Linked DNA regions of Homo sapiens: region 2 is linked to region 1. A link means that fine-mapping ties the variant in region 1 to the expression of a gene that starts in the linked region. Tissue or cell type: whole blood. Region 1 holds a variant in brackets; the other region holds the start of a gene. All regions are shown on one strand. Distances are from middle to middle.

Region 1 (8,260 bases):
TTTGAATCTTTATAACAGCCTTGAGAAGTAGGAAGTATTATGCTAATTTTACAGGTTAGGAAGTTGCATAGAGAGGTTAACTTGCCAACAGTCACACAACGAGTTTGTGGCAGTTTCCCATATTTGATCCCAAGTTGTCTAATTCCAAAGCGTATTGATCTCAGACTCTTTAAGCAGGGCCAGGGTAAAACTGGAAATTGTTCAGATGGTTTTCTAAGGCATTTTCTTTCTTTCTTTTTTTGAGATGGAGTTTCGCTCTTGTTGCCCAGGCTGGAGTGCAATGGCATGATCTTGGTTCACCACAACCTCCACCTCCCGGGTTCAAGCGATTCTCCTGCCTCAGCCTCCCGAGTAGCAGGGATTACAGGCATGCACCACTACACCCCAGCTAATTTTGTATTTTTAGTAGAGACAGGGTTTCTCCATGTTGGTCAGACTGGTCTCGAACTCCTGACCTCAGGTGATCCACCCGCCTCAGCCTGCCAAAGTGCTGGGATTACAGGCGTGAGCCACTGCACCTGGCCGTCTAAGGCATTTTCATTACCTTTGATTGCCTCTGGGGTTCCCTTTCCTCTTCCTCATTATTTCTATTATTATTACATTATAATACATAATGAAATAATTATACAACTCACCATAATGTGGAAACAGTGAGAGCCCTGAGATTGTTTTCCTGCAACTAGACAGTCCCATCTGGGGGTGATAGGAGACAGTGACAAATCATCAGGCTTTAGATTCTCATAAGGAGCCCACAACCTAGATCCCTTCCATGCGCAGTTCACTTCTTTGTGCTCCTATGAGAATGTAATGCTGCTGTTGCTGATCTGACAGGAGGCGGAGCTCAGGTGGTAATGCAAGCAATGGGGGAGTGGCTGTAAATGGAGATGAAGCTTCACTTGCTCGCCTGCCTCATCTTTTGCTGTGTGATCTGGTTCCTAACAGGCCATGGACTGGTTACCATCCGTGGCCTGGGGTTTGTTGACCCCTGGCTTAGAGATCTGTGGGAGATCATGTCAGTATAGCGTGGTGTGTGTTAGGAATTCAACTATAGGTGCTGTAAAAGCCCAAAGAAGGAACATCTGATTTACTGAGGGAATGCTTCCCAAATGATACAATGACACGTAAGCTGAGTCTTTTTTTTTTTTTCTGAGACAGAGTCTCGCACTGTTGCCCGGACTGAAGTGCAGTGATGCCGTCTTGGCTCGCTGCAACCTCTGCCTCCCAGGTTCAAGCGATTCTCCTGCCTTAGCCTCCAGAGTAGCTGGGATTACAGGTGCACACCACCACTCCTGGCTATAAGCTGAGTCTTAAAGGAAAAGTCACCCAGGTGAAGGTAATAGGTGCAGTTCCAGGGAAACAGAGTAATCCAAATGGAGAAGTGAAACAGCTTGGTGTTGGCTGTAGCTGTAGTGGTGGAATTACAGGCACTTATTTGACAGATGGGGGAGAGCACTTTAGGCAAGAGGATTCTCTCCACCACCCATGGTGAACTTTTTATTTTATTTATTTTATTGTTTTAAGGAGACAGGGTTGGGGCTGGGCGCCGTGGTCATGCCTGTAATCCCAACACTTTGAGAGGCCAAGGCGGGCGGATCACCTGAGGTCAGGAGTTCGGGACCAGCCTGGCCAACGTGGTGAAACCCTGTCCCTACTAAAAATACAAAAAATTAGCTGGGCATGGTGGCAGGAGCCTGTAAACCCAGCTAATTGGGAGGCTGAAGCAGGGAATCGCTTGAACCCAGGAGGCGGAGGTTGCAGTAAGCCGAGATCGCGCCATTGCCCTCCAGCCTGGACAACAGCGAGACTCCATCTCAAAAAAAAAAAAAAAAAAAAAAAGAGGGTTGGGGGCGGGTGCGAAGTGGCTCACTCCTGTAATCCCAGCATTTTGGGAGGCTGAGGCAGGCAGATTACTTGAGCCCAGGAGTTCCAGACCAGCCTGGGCAACATGGAGAAACCTCGTCTCTACAAAAAACACAATTAACTGGGCATGGTGATGCTGTGATCACACCACTACACTCCAGCCTGGGCAACAGAATGAGACCCTGTCTCAAAAAAAAAAAAAAAAAAAAAAAAAATACAAAGTTTCACTCTGTTGCCCAGGCTGGAGTGCAGCGGGTTTGTCATAGCCTGTAGGTTTGAACTCCTGGTCTTAAAGTGATCCTCTCGCCTTAGCCTCCTGAGTAGGAATAGCTAGGGACACATGCCATTATGCCCAGCTTCCATGGTGAGGATATTGGTGACAGAGTCTTATGAGGAGTGGCTTGAGGAACTGGGGTTATTTAGTCTATATGTGAACTAAGTCAAGAGTAGGACAGCAATCTTTGGTATTTGAAAGGCTGTCATGTGGAAGAGATCCTTGGGACTTTAGAGCAGTGGAACACAAACATAGGTTGTCACTAAGAGACCTTTGTAGAGGTCTCAGCCTTTCCAGCCACATTCCTTATCCTTCCTGGGAATCTGAATCTTCAGGTCTAGGGAATCTGCATTTTTAACAAGTCTCAGCTTAACAAGGTAAGTTGGACACCTGATCTCTGCACTACACTTTGAGAAACACTGAGGAAGAAACAAAACCAGTGCTATGTGGAAGATACAGAGAGGAGAGGTTCTCCTTTAAGATGAAGGTTGTACCATCAGTGGAGGGGGATAACCTCTTAGCTAGAGGGGAGTTGTGCAAGGCCTAAGAAATTGGGATGGAGATTCAATAGAGTCTCTCTTAACCTGGAGACTGTCTGATCCTTTAAAATCTAACCACTGGGCAGCTATTCTCTGCTGTAAGTTTGTTCCTAATACGAGGTCTCATGGGCTTTGTTTCTCTTCCAGGAGCAGGAACTCAAAGCAGCCGCTGATGGCGTACTATCTGAAGTGAGGAAAAAACAAGCAGATACCAAAAGAATGGTGGACATTCTACGGGCTTTGGAGAAATTGAGGAAACTGAGGAAAGAGGCTGCAGCGAGGAAAGGTAACTGTGGCTTTGCATTTCTTTCCTTGTTCCCTTCCCCTTCTTTACTCTAGCTCCTCCCACCCCAAATATTATTGAGGGAAAAATACTTGAAACTTCATGATTTTCACCTTGTCGGGTAACTGGGCTTGTCAGCAAGTAGGTCAGAACTTCTGAAGCAGGAAGCCTCAGAAGATGTTTAGCCTGTGGTAGCCCAGATTGAAAAGAGAGGCAAGTGTGGGAACCCACTGCACTGTCTTCCCCTTGACTTATCATTCCTACCCTGGGCATTTCTGGCCACACTCTTCTGAGTGGGCTTGTCATGGCTAGTCACCTTTGCCTTGTGCCAGAGTGAAAGCTTTTCACCCTTACTTGTTGCTCCAGAAAGTGTTGAAAACTTGGCATGCTTCTTCAGATACATTTCAAACCTGAATTATTTCTATTTGAAGAGGTATGAATGGTTGGACAGGGCAGGGATTGCAGACTGTGTGGATTTCCCCACCTTCC[C/T]TTCATGTCACTGGTCTCTTCTTGCCTCTGGAGGAAGCACCAGACACTATAGCCAGGCAGTTCAAGCTTCTCCACCGAAGTTTGTTTCAACCATGCTGGCTTTCTAGAAGTTACCCAATTGTGCTTTCCATTTGCCTGTCTGGATCTTAGCTGTTGTCATTCTGTTCATCTGGAGGGCCCTCAGTCCCATCTTTGCCATTTTAAGATCTCACTATTCAAAACCAAATACACATGCAGCATCCTTCATCCTTCCCTGATCTGGGCTGAGGTAACCTCCTGTTGCTTCTCACTTGCACCTGCTTTGGACCACATGCTGATTTATTTAGTAGATTGTAGGCCTTTGGTATTCACCAGAGATATTTGAGAGTGTACAAATTAGCAAATGCCACTCTAACAAATGATTTCCCATGTGTTGTTTAAAATGTAAATGAAAACTGGGATTCTTTTAGACCCTTAAGAAAGTTGTGTTGGAATATGACCATTTTGTATTCACCCAGGCTCGTTTGCTAGCTAAGTGATTGGCTTTTGCATACTAGCCTTCAGAGCGGCTAATTCACATCCAGACCTCAGAAACAGATGCCTCCATTGTGGTACTCTCAGGGCATTTGTAAATCAGAGGGAAGTTAGCATCTGCTTTGTCTACCCATCTCTTTTTCACTAGAAGGCAAAACCTGAGAGCTATTTAATATTCCCACACCTCACATCCTCTATGAGGTGAGTGCTCAGTAAACTTCTGCCAAGTGAATTTACCAGCATTTCCCAATATTAATCTTCCTCACTTTGGTCCAAAAGGAGGAGGAAATTTTAGGAAAATCATTATCTATAGAAATAAACAGACTTTGTGGCATTAAGTGACTTGAATGTAAAATGATTTGGTAAGTAGCAGCTGGTTGCATGCATATTTAAAATGAGCAGCTAACTTCTCTCTTCAAGATGTGTGCACCTCCAACTAAGTGCTGAATGATGAGGCTGGATGTTTAAGCAGGACCACGTTGCAAATTGTCTTATGGGCTATGCTAGAGTTCTCACTTATACTTAAAGCTTTGGGGAACCGCTGAAAGTTTTTTTTTTTTTTTTTTTTTGAGACGGAGTCTCGCTCTGTCGCCCAGGCCGGACTGCGGACTGCAGTGGCGCAATCTCGGCTCACTGCAAGCTCCGCTTCCCGGGTTCACGCCATTCTCCTGCCTCAGCCTCCCGAGTAGCTGGGACTACAGGCGCCCACCACCGCGCCCGGCTAATTTTTTGTATTTTTAGTAGAGACGGGGTTTCACCTTGTTAGCCAGGATGGTCTCGATCTCCTGACCTCATGATCCACCTGCCTCGGCCTCCCAAAGTGCTGGGATTACAGGCGTGAGCCACCACGCCTGGCCCCGCTGAAAGTTTTTAAGTGAAATGATGGCAAAGATCAGTGCCAGTAGAGCAGAGAAAGTTTTGGAGCATCCAGGAGAGAGAGAGAAGGGCAGAGAGATGGGTAAGGCTATTGGGCACGGGTAGTATGGAAGCATAAGCTGAGTGACGTCAGTGTGTAGGAGAATTGAGAGGTAATGAGTAATTCAAGTGATAGTGAATAATTGAGTAATTCAGAATTATTAGTGAATAATTCTCAAGTCAAAGAATTGAGAGATAATGAATAAAGGTATATGTGTATATACCCATGTACATATAAATAAATAATTTAAGGAACTCAGAGTACAGGAACTAAAGGGAAAAACAATGAAATGTCTTCCAGATTCTAGCCTCATCTACTGAATAAGTGAAGATAGCTTTTTTTTTTTGCTTTTTTTTTTTTTAAAAGACAGGGTCTTGCACTGTCGCCCAAGCCGAAGTGCAGTGGTGCAATCATAATTCACTGCAGCCTTATACTCCCAGGCAGGAGCGATCCTCCCACCTCAGCCTCCTGAGTAGTAGAGACTACAGGTGCACACCACCACACCTGGCTAATTTTTAAATTTTTTGTAGAGATAGAGTTTCGCCATGTTGCCCAAGCTGGTCTCGAACTCCTGGGCTCAAGCGATTCTCCCATCTTGGCCTCCCAAAGTTCTAGGATTAAGGGTGTGAGCCACTGTGCCTGGCCGATACCATTCTAATTAAGAAGGAAAACAAGGGAGGAGGAACAGGTTTAGGGTTGACAAGTTCAGTTGGGGACCTGTCGAGTTTGAGGTGTGTGTGGTACATCCTGGATAAGAGTTCATTAGCATGTAGCCATGAGTCAGAATGACCTTAAGGAGATTGTACAGCATGAGATGAGGGCCAAAAAGACAAAATCATAGGGAATGTCAAAATCAAGGTAGAAGATGAAGAGAGCAAAAAAGAGACCAAGAGAGGTCAGAGAGATGGGAGGAAAAGATAGACTCCCTGCTTCCTTCTGGAAAGTGGCAAGTGCTTAGAGAGAGATTGTGTAGTCTTGGTGATATGGTTTGGCTGTGTCCCCACCCAAATCTCATCTTGAATTGTAGCTCCCATAATTCCCACATGTCGTCGGAGGGACTTGGTGGGAGGTAATTGAATCATGGGGACAGGTCTTTCACATGCTGTTCTTGTGATCATAAGTCTCATGAGATCTGATGGATTTATAAAGGAGAGTTTCCTTGCACACGCCCTCTTTACCTGTCACCATGTAAGATATAACTTTGCTCCTCCTTCACCTTCCGCCATGATTGTGAAGCCTCCCCAGCCATGTAGAACTGTGAGTCAATTAAACCTCTTTTATAAATTACCCAATTTCAGGTATATCTTTATTGGCAGCGTGAGAATAGATTAATACACTTGGACAGGTTACTTGAGCTTCTCTGAACCTTTGTTTCCTCATCTGCAAAAAGGGAGTAATGATAGTACCTACCCATGGGGTGTCGTGAGGATTAAATTAATAAATATGTGTAAAGTACTTAAAACAGTCCTGGCACATAGTAAATGCTATATACATGTTTCATATTATTATTCTTTTTATTATCAAGAAATAAGGAACATCCATGGGAATTAGTATCCAACCGGTCATTAGTGACCTATGCTAGGGGCATTTCAGTGGAGTGGTGGGGGTAGAAGCCAGACTACAGTTGGTTAGAGAATGAATATGATACAAGAAAAGCAAACAGATAATTCAACTTATTAAAAGATTGCCTGTGAAGAAAAGGAAAGAGCAACATCAGTATCTGGCAAGGTGTGTGGTAGTGGTGATGGTGAGGGGTGTTGTGTGTCTTTGGGTCATGGGGAAAACTTAAGCATGGTTAAAATTGCTGAGAGGAGTGAGTAGAAGGGGAAGGGTCAAAGAGAAGCAGGAAGAATAGTTGATGGCTCAAGGTCCCATGGAAGGTAGGATGATTCAGATCCCAGGTGGAGGGATTAACTTAAGTGAAGAAGGACCCATCTTACACAAGCATGAAAATGAAGGAGATGAAGATAGGTAGTGATGCACATGAGTGTGTAAATGGGGACAGATATTTGAGGGATTTCCTGTCTGCTGGCCTGTTTTCTCTGGGAAACAGGGTAAATGGTTTGCTGAGCGCCAGTAGACAAGTGGGGCTTTAGGAGAGCAGTGAAGGTTTGATTTAATTGCTGTGAAGAATGGGTGAGAGCCAACAGAGACTTGTGGAAGATGGTTGCAGGGGGTGCTATGGGTCCAGCTGACATATATTGGCAATGGATGACACAATCAAATGACCTCTTCCAGTAGTACTGTAGCTGACAGGTGAGCACAGAGCACGGGGCTGTTGGGGTTTTGCTTTGTGGGGTGACCATTAGTTTTGTGGCGAAGGAGTAGCAGAAGGATAGAATCTGATACATCAGGTCCGGAGGTTTTGATGAAGCTGCCAAATGGGTCTCTGGGGAGAAGGAAGTAAAAGTACTATAAGGGAGAAAGTTGTAGTTGGATAAGAGAATAATCAAGTTTAAGATTTAAGAGGCAGAAAGTTTTTTCTGATAATGCCAAGGTCCACAGACTGAACAGGACTGCAGGCATGTGGCTAAAGGGGAATAGAGGCAAAGGCATTGGTGTCTAGGAGCTGCAGGACTAGGTGGACAGTGAGTGGTAGAAGTGGAGGGAACCTAGATGGTGCCAGGAGGAAGACTGTGTGAGAAGTGCTGTTTCTTTTTCTTTTTCTTTCTTTCTTTCTTTTTTTTTTTTGAGACGGAGTTTCACTCTTGTTGCCCCTGTTGGAGTGCAGTGGTGCAATCTCGGCTCACTGCAACCTCCACCTCCCAGGTTCAAGCGATTCTCCTGCCTCAGCCTCCAGAGTAGCTGAGATTACAGGCATGCACCACCACACCCAGCTAATTTTTGTATTTTTTTTAGTAGAGATGGGGTTTCACCACGTTGGTCAGGCTGGTCTCAAACTCCTGACCTCAGGTAATCTACCCGCCTCAGCCTCCCAAAGTGTTGGGATTACAGGTGTGAGCCACCACTCCCGCCCCAGGAGTGCCATTTCTGAGGGAATATGTTACATTGACCAGGGAGTGATCAGTGAGGGGCCGAGAGAGATGTGGGTTGGTGGCCCAGGCTCAGCAGCCTACATCTCTTCATGGGGTCTTTAGGCTAACATAGGATGATGGAGTATCTGTGTATTTCGCCATAGACAGATTTTAGTAGTTGCAACAGAGACTGTATGGCTTACAAAATCTAAAATATTTACCTGTAAAGGTAAAGAAATGAAACAAAACCGTTAGATTATTATAAAACAGAGTGACAGCTTAAATTTGTCAGTGTATAAGAATTTTGTGTATACTTGAAAAACACTGGCCTGGCAACTTAGTAGAAGATAAATTTGAGTTGTAGTGTTTCTGTAGTTGAGAATGAGTGAATGGAAACCTGTAGAAGCAAAG
Region 2 (8,000 bases), 160 kb before region 1:
CAGCCTGGTGACAGAGCGAGACTCCATCTCAAAAAAGAAAAAAACAACAGATATACAGTTGACCCTTGAACAACATGGGGGGTTAGAGTTGCCGACCCCTCTCGCAGTTGAAAATTTGCATGTAACTTTTTTTTTTTTTTGGTGGGGAGATGGGGTCTCACCGTGGTCCAAGCTGGAGTGCAATGGCTTGATCTCGGCTCACTGCAACCTCCGCCTCCTAGGCTCAAGCGATTCTCCTGCCTCAGCCTCCTGAGTAGCTGGGACTACAGGCATGTGCCACCACGCCCAGCTAATTCTTGTATTTTTAGTAAAGACGGGGTTTTGCCATTTTGGCCAGGCTGGTCTAGAACTCCTGGCCTCAAGTGATCCGCCCGCCTCGGCCTCCGAAAGTGCTGAGATTACAGGCATGTGCCACCATGCTGATGCATATAACTTTTGACTCCCCCTAAACTTAACTACAAATAGTCTACTGTTGACCGACAGCCTTACAGATAACAGTTGATTAACACATATTATGTGTGTTAAACGTATTATATACTGTATTCTTACTACAATGAGGTAGAGGAAGGAAAATGTTATTAAAGAAGAAGAGAAAATAGGCTGGGCATGGTGGCTAACACCTGTAAACCCAGCACTTTGGGAGGCCAAGGCAGAAGGACCACTTGAGGCCAGGAGTTCAACACCAGCCTGTTCAAGATTTTGTCTCTACTGAAAAAGAAAAAGAAGAAAGAAAAAAAAATTGCTGGGGATGGCATCATGCATCTATATAGTCCTAGCTACTCAGGAGGCTGAGGCACGAGAATTGCTTGAACCTGGGAGGCAGAGGTTGCAGTGAGGTCACACCACTGTACTCCAGCCTGGTGACAGAGTGAGACCTTGTCTCAAAATATATATATATATATATATTTACTATTAAAAAACCCCACTAAATAAACAAAAAGAACATATATTTACTATTCATTAAGTGGAAGTGGGTCATCGTAAAAGTCTTCCTCATTGTCTTCACGTTGGGTATGTTGAGGACAGGGAGGAGAGGTTGGTTTTACTGTCTGAGGAGTGGCAGAGGAGGAAGAGGTGGAGGTAGAAGGGAGGCAGGCATACTCGCTTTAGTTTCAGTGCCCATGTCATAGAAGGGTCCACGTTGTAAAAGCAGTCTTGAATACTAGGAACACTTCCGCCAGATTGTCTAATGTCAGTTGTTCTCCGGCACTGCGTCTTCTACATCATCTTCATCGTCTTGCACTGGTTCGAAGGCACTCATCTCCACCAAGTCATCTATTCGTTCCTCTAGTGTGACATCTAGTAGCCCTTGGATTTCTCCAAGATTCATATCTTGAACCCTTCACCCCACACACATCTCTTTTGCATATCCACAATCTCTTTCTTGATTTCCTTGACAGTCTCTGTCATAAATCTCGTGAAGTCATGCACAACATCTGCACACAATTTTTCTCCAGCATGAATTTATTGTTTCAGGTTTGATGGCCTTCACATGTTTTTCTACAACATCTTCAATGGTGTAATCCTTCCAGACGTTCATGATGTTCTCTTGGTTGAGGTCCTCTCCCATAGTGTTGACGATCCCTTCCATAGAGTACTGGGTGTAATAAGCATTAAAGATTCTTATGACCCCGTGATCTAGAGGATGAATTACAGACATCGTCCCTATTCAGAGGCAAGTAGACCACTTGCACCTTCAGTGTTGAACTCGGGGTTCCGGGTGGCCAAGAACATTGTCCAATATCAAAAGAACTTGAAAAGCTCCTGCTGGCCGGGCATGGTGGCTCACGCCTGTAATCCCAACACTTTGGGAGGTTGAGGCAGGTGGATCACTTGAGGTTGGGAGTTCGAGACCAGCTTGGCCAACATCATGAAACCCCATCTCTACTAAAAATATAAAAATTAGCGAAGCGTGGCGGCACACACCTGTAATCCCAGCTACTCGGGAGGCTGAGGCAGGATAATTGCTTGAACCTGGGAGGTGGAGGTTACAGTGAGCCAAGATCAAGATCGCACCACTGCACTCCAGCCTGGGCAACAGAGCAAGACTCCGTCTCAATAAATAAAAGGCAGCTCCTTACTGGCAAGATATAATACTTCCTGACTTCAAGGACAAAGCATTCAACCAATCCAGAGGAAGGGTTCTTCTTGTCCAGGCCTTCTTGTTGTACCAAGAGTGGCAGCTTGTGTTTATCTTTTCTCTTCAAGGCTTGGGGGTTATCAGCTTTACAGATAAGGGAAGTTCTGATAATAAACCTGACCAAATTTGCACAGAACAATAGTCAGCCTATCCCTTTCTGCCTTAAATCCTGGTGCTCGATTTTCTTCCTTACTAATAAGTGTCTTTTGTGGCATCTTCTTTCAGAATAGGGCATGTTCATCGGCATTAAAAACCTGTTCAGGTGGATATCTTTCCTGTCAGTGATTTTTTTTTTTTTTTTTTTTTTTTTTTTGGGAGATGAAATCTTACTCTGTCACCCAAGCTGGAGTGTAGTGGCATGATCTCAACTCACTGCAACCTCCGCCTCCCAGGTTCAAACAGTTCTCGGGCTTCAACCTCCCGAGTAGCTGGGGCTACAGGCACGTGCCACTATGCCTGGCTAATTTTTGTATCTTTATTAGAGACAGGGTTTAACCATAGTGGCCAGGCTGGTCTCGAACTCCTGACCTCAGGTGATTTGCCCACTTCGGCCTCCCAAAGTGCTGGGATTACAGGTGTGAGCCACGTGCCTGGTCCCCACTTTCAATAATGAATAGAATAAACAGAAGATCAACAAGGAAATCTAAGATTTGAAAACAATATAAATCAACTAGACCTAACAGACATCCATAGAACACTTGACCTAACAGCAGCAGAATATATACATTCACATGAAACATTCTCCAGGATAGGCCATATGCTAGGCAATAGACAAACCTCAATGAATTTAAAAGGACAGGAGTAAACAAAATGTGTTCTCTAAGCCAGGTGTGGTGGTGTGAGCCTGTAGTCTGAGGTACTCTGGAGGCTGAGCCGGGAGGATCATTTGAGGCCAGAAGTTCTAGGCTGCAATGTGCTATGATCATGCTTGTGAATAGCCACTGTGCTCTAGCCGAGGTAACAGTGAGGCCCAGTCTCTTAAACAAAAAACAAACATGTTGGTGATTGCTTAGGAGTGGGCGACATGGTAGGGTGGGTAGAGCATTGATAGACTAGGTGTAGAGAGTTCCTTTCTGAGGTGATAAAAATATTCTAAAATTGATTGTGACAGTTTCACATATCTGTGAATGTACTAAAAACTATTAAATTGTACACTTTAAATGGGTGAATTGTATGGTCTGTGGATTATATCAAATTTATATAAGCAGGGCTGAAACCCCTCCACAAGAAATGTGGTTCTGAGACCACCTTAGCAAATTCTGATAAAATCTAGAAGAATAAAGTAAACATAAGAACATTCAGTTTCACTATCAAGTAAATGCAAATTAAAACTATAATGAAATTCAACTTTGTGTCTATGGAATTGACAAGAATTAAAAAGAATTCTAATATTCTGCATGAGCTAAGTCATGAGAATGCTGGCCATCAGAGGCCCTTCCACACCACCCTGTGATGTGAATATTATCACTATGATTCTCATATCATATGTGACAAATATCTTCAGATAAGCAAATTTTATATATCCACCCAACAAACAATTCTTGAGGCCAAGGAGGTATCAGAGGGTGGCTTTTGTCTAAGGGCCTGCAATGAAGAAGAGGTGGAATGAGAGATGGTTCCCTGGTCTCCTGACCCACTCCAAGCTCTCCCTTCCTGGGGTCTGAGCTTCAGAAGCCACCTTAGAGTTCCTGGGTCCTATGAGAACCCCCATGGCTTTTGAAGCACTAGGGGCCTTGTGGTTCTAGGCCTCAGAGCAAACAGATTTGATGTGGGCTCCTGGGAGCAGCCCCCAACCTTTACCTGGCAAAAGAAGATGGGAAGCTCTGTGGTGTCTGGGGGACCAGTCTTCGCCCTACCTCCCGAAGTCATAGATGCAATCCAATGGCATGGGACCACCTCTCCTCTGAGTCCAGGGCCCAGCACAGCCTGGATGCAGAAGGAGAAGTTTCTTCCTCAGAAGATCCTGCAGGGTAGGAGTGTGTGCGGTGTGTTGGTTTAAGCACAATGGTCTGTGTTTAGATTTGCATGTGACCATGAGGTCACACTTTGGGGTTTTCTCTAATGAAGGTTCTGAGTAGGGAGAGGGGATGGGAGTCTAGTCCTTACCCTCCAGCAGAGTTAAGTCAATGCCCCTCTGCTCTCCCCCAAGCTCCCTGTCAGAGAGGTCTCCCAAGGAGGATCTTGGGGCATTTGAGGCCAGAGACTTAAGCAATTCAGAGAATTCTGGAGGCTGAAAAGCAGAGGAAAAGTCTTTTGGTTTTCCAAAGATCTCGGTGTGAATCCTAGATTTACCCATCTGGCTGTGGGATCTTGGGCAAGCATTGCAGCACTCTAAGCCTCAGTTTCCCTGGGTGTTAAATGGCTCCTTCTGTGCAGTTTTGGAGGGAAAAGATTCAAGAGAGACAATAGGTAGCATTAATACCCCAAGGAAGAGAGGTAGGCTCAGTCCGCAGAGCTGGGACAAAGACAAGTACAGGGGCGGGTCGAGAGGGTGCCCACATCAATTTCTACCAGGGCTGCTGCTGCTGTGAGGATGGCTGGCAGGGGCGTGGGCGACGTCGCCCGGCACACACTGGCGGCGGCAACTCTCGTAGCTGCGGGTGATCGGGGTCTGGGAGGGGCGGGCACAACCCGTACGGTGGAGCTGGCTGGGGCGCGAAGGGGCGGGCCCTCGGCTGGGCCGGGCGGAGCGCGGCGGCGGGAGGGGAGGTAGGCCGGGCAAGGCAAGCGGACGTGAGCTGCAGGCGGAAGACAGGTGGCGCCGCGGGCAGCTTGGCGAGAGGCGGGACTTCGGCGGCGCGGCGGGAGGCGGGGCAGGAAGGCGCGCGCGGCGCAGCAGCCTCGCCCGTCGCGGAGAGTGGGCTCTGCCCGCCGTCCCCCGGGGGCTGCTTCCCGCCCCAGGCCTCCGCGGAGGACACGTGTCAGCACGTTCCCGCGGTTGTCATTCCATTGTCATAGCCCTTCCCCTAGGCCGGGAACCCCTCCCCCCCACCAGCCCCAGTTCCTTTATCCCTGGGCCCAACCTCCCCGCCGACCCGCGGTCCAGGCCTCGGTCTCTCTCTTCGGCGGCGAGCCGCGGCCCAGACCCCGGCAGAGGACACTTGTCGGCACGTTCTCACCCCTGTCATCTCAGCCCCCTGCCTAGCTCCACCCCAGGCTTGGGAACCCGGCCCCTGACGGCCCATTGTCCGCGGGCCCAGCCCCCGCGCTGAACGCACGCTCGCCCTTGCCCCTAACCAGCGCGTCTACCCCGGCAACGCGCAGTGACCTGGGATGCAGCCCTCAGGCTGGGCGGCCGCCAGGGAGGCGGCGGGCCGCGACATGCTGGCCGCCGACCTCCGGTGCAGCCTCTTCGCCTCGGCCCTGCAGAGCTACAAGCGCGACTCGGTGCTGCGGCCCTTCCCCGCGTCCTACGCCCGCGGCGACTGTAAGGACTTTGAAGCCCTGGTGAGTGTGCTTTGTCCTGGCGCTGCCCACTGCGTCCTGGACCAAGTGCCCTGTGGAACCACAGGTAGAGGCAGTTCCATCCGCATTAGTAAACATGACAGCCGCCAGACTTTCCATTCCCAGCTTGGTCTTGCCTTGCCTTGGGGAAGGTTTCCATGAGCTAAGAACACTGCTAACACCCTCATGTCAACGCTCACTCCCAAGGCACTTGGTGGCTGCTTCTCTCCTGTCAATGACAAATGACTCCGAGGACTGAAGTGAGGAATAGTTGCATAGTCCTCCACAGATTTTCTAGCCTGGCCAGGAATAGGGTTGATGTGAATCAGCTGTTTTGCTTAGCTAGAAAGTTATCCATCCTTTTGCAAATAATTAGACACCAAAAAGTCACCAAAGCCGCCCAGACATTGGTCTTCAGATGAGGTGATCTATGGGCAGTACTTTTATAAACTGTAACATCCAGTACATATGTAAGCTGTTATTTCTCTGATTCACCAGGCACTTTTTTTGCAGAGTTCACCTCTGGGTCAGCATTCAAGATATCAGTTATCCTTATAATCCAAATGTTTGGAATTGCCTAGAAAAATATAACTTACCAAAATCGATTCAATAAAAAGCAGAAAATTGAAATCGCCAATAGCTGATATTCATTAAAGACACTGAACTCCATGTATCTTTGGGACCTGTCAAGTGTGGCAGTCTCCCTTCCTTGCCATGGAAGAGCATATTCTTGTTTACCAGCAAAGCTGTCACCATTTAATTGGTATCAGATTCTGACTTGCACAAGTAACATTCTTCACTGTTAAAAACTTGGAGGGGCCAGGCTCGGTGGCTCATGCTTGTAATCCCAGCACTTTGGGAGGCCAAGGCGGGCAGATTACCTGAGGTTGGGAGTTCAAGACCAACCTGACCAACATGGAGAAATCCCGTCTCTATTAAAAATACAAAAAGTTAGCCGGGCGTGGTGGCGCATGCCTGTAATCCCAGCTACTCTGGAAGCTGAGACAGGAGAATCGCTTGAACCCGGGAGGCGGACGTTGTGGTGAGCCGAGATTGCGCCATTGCAGTCCAGCCTGGGCAACAAGAATGAAACTCCATTAAAAAAAAAAAAAAAACCTGGAGGGTGCCAGGTTATTGGGCGAACTTTTCTAGACTATTGTAGAAAAAGAAGAAAAAGGCTGAGTGGCTCATGCCTGTAATCCCAAGGACTTTGGGAAGGCAAGGCAAGAGGATCGTTTGAGACCAGCCTAGGCAAAAAAGATTTCTTTAAATTAGCTGAGTGTGGTGATGCACGCCTGTAGTCCCAGCTACTTGGGAGGCTGAGGCGGGAGGATGGCTTGAGTCCAAGAGGTCGAGGCTGCAATGAGCTGTAATCACACCACTGCCCTCCAGCCTGGGCAACACAGCAAGTCTCTCTCTCAAAAAAAAAAAAAAAAAAAAAAAAGACGTTGGATTAGTAGTCAAGGATTTTCCCTCAAAGAAAACTCTGGACGTAGCTGGTGTCATTGGTGAGTTGTAGCAATCACTGAGGGAATAAGTAATTCCCAGTTTTACACAGAGTATTAAAAAAGAGGCTAGCATAACCTTGACCCTAAATCTGATAAGGGTGATACAAAAAAAGAAAATTATAGGCCGAGTGCGGTGGCTCACACCTGTAATCCCAGCACTTTGGGAGGCTGAGGCGGGTGGATCACGAGGTCAGGAGTTCAAGACCAGCCTGGACAATATGGTAAAACCCTGTCTCACCATTATGGTGGTGCATGCTGGTAATCCCAGCTACTCAGGAGGCTGAGGCAGGAGAATTGCTTGAACTGGGACCTGGGAGGCAGAGGTAGCAGTGAGCCGAGATCGCCCCACTGCACTCCAGCCTGGGCAACAGAGCAAGACTGTCTCAAAAAAAAAAAAAAAAAAAAAAAAAGAGGAAAGAAAATTATAGGCCAATGTCATGAGTATGAATGCAAAAATTATCTTCAAGGTATTAGGATCTTAAAGCTAGCAATGTATAAAAAAGGGTAATTCCTTATGACCAGGTTGGGTTCATCCCAGGAATGCAAAATTAGTTCAATATTAGGCAATCAGTTAATGGCACGAACCACATTGATAGATTAAAGGAGGTATTTAGAATCAACACGTGTTTAGCGTTATCTCTGATGAAATCATCAGTGTTTGGTTCCTCCTTTGCTATCATTCCTAGGAGGTTGAGGGACAAAGGCTGAGCCTCTTGGCCCAACCTGGTCCTGGTAGCCCACCTAATGATGTGTCGAGGGCATCTCAAGTGGTGACCACAGTGCACAGGCGTTTCAGGGTACCGGAAGTGGGAGGTTGGAGAAAGAGGCAAATTGACTGACTTCCCTCGAGATTTGTTCTTGCAGGTTCAGATACTCAATTTTCTGAGTGTGGTGTATCAGGACCTTGG

The links. PIP is the estimated chance that this variant, and not a neighbour inherited with it, causes the effect.
Region 2: it holds the start of PARP16, and the variant in region 1 is fine-mapped to the expression of PARP16 in whole blood (TOPMed, PIP above 0.99).

Annotation. Positions count from the first base shown.
Region 1 is chr15:65,123,731-65,131,990 of GRCh38, reverse strand. It overlaps PDCD7 (programmed cell death 7), which reads left to right. Exons shown (of 5, transcript NM_005707.2): 2 at 2,821-2,959. Among named protein-coding and RNA genes, the nearest start is that of PDCD7, 5.9 kb to the left of the region's middle. The variant C/T (reference allele first, on the strand shown) is at 3,446.
Region 2 is chr15:65,283,840-65,291,839 of GRCh38, reverse strand. It overlaps PARP16 (poly(ADP-ribose) polymerase family member 16), which reads left to right and starts at 4,957. Exons shown (of 6, transcript NM_001316943.2): 1 at 4,957-5,587. The coding sequence starts at 5,414. It overlaps SNORA24B (small nucleolar RNA, H/ACA box 24B), which reads left to right and starts at 6,249; the gene lies at 6,249-6,379. RefSeq lists an enhancer at 4,513-4,562 and a silencer at 4,713-5,272.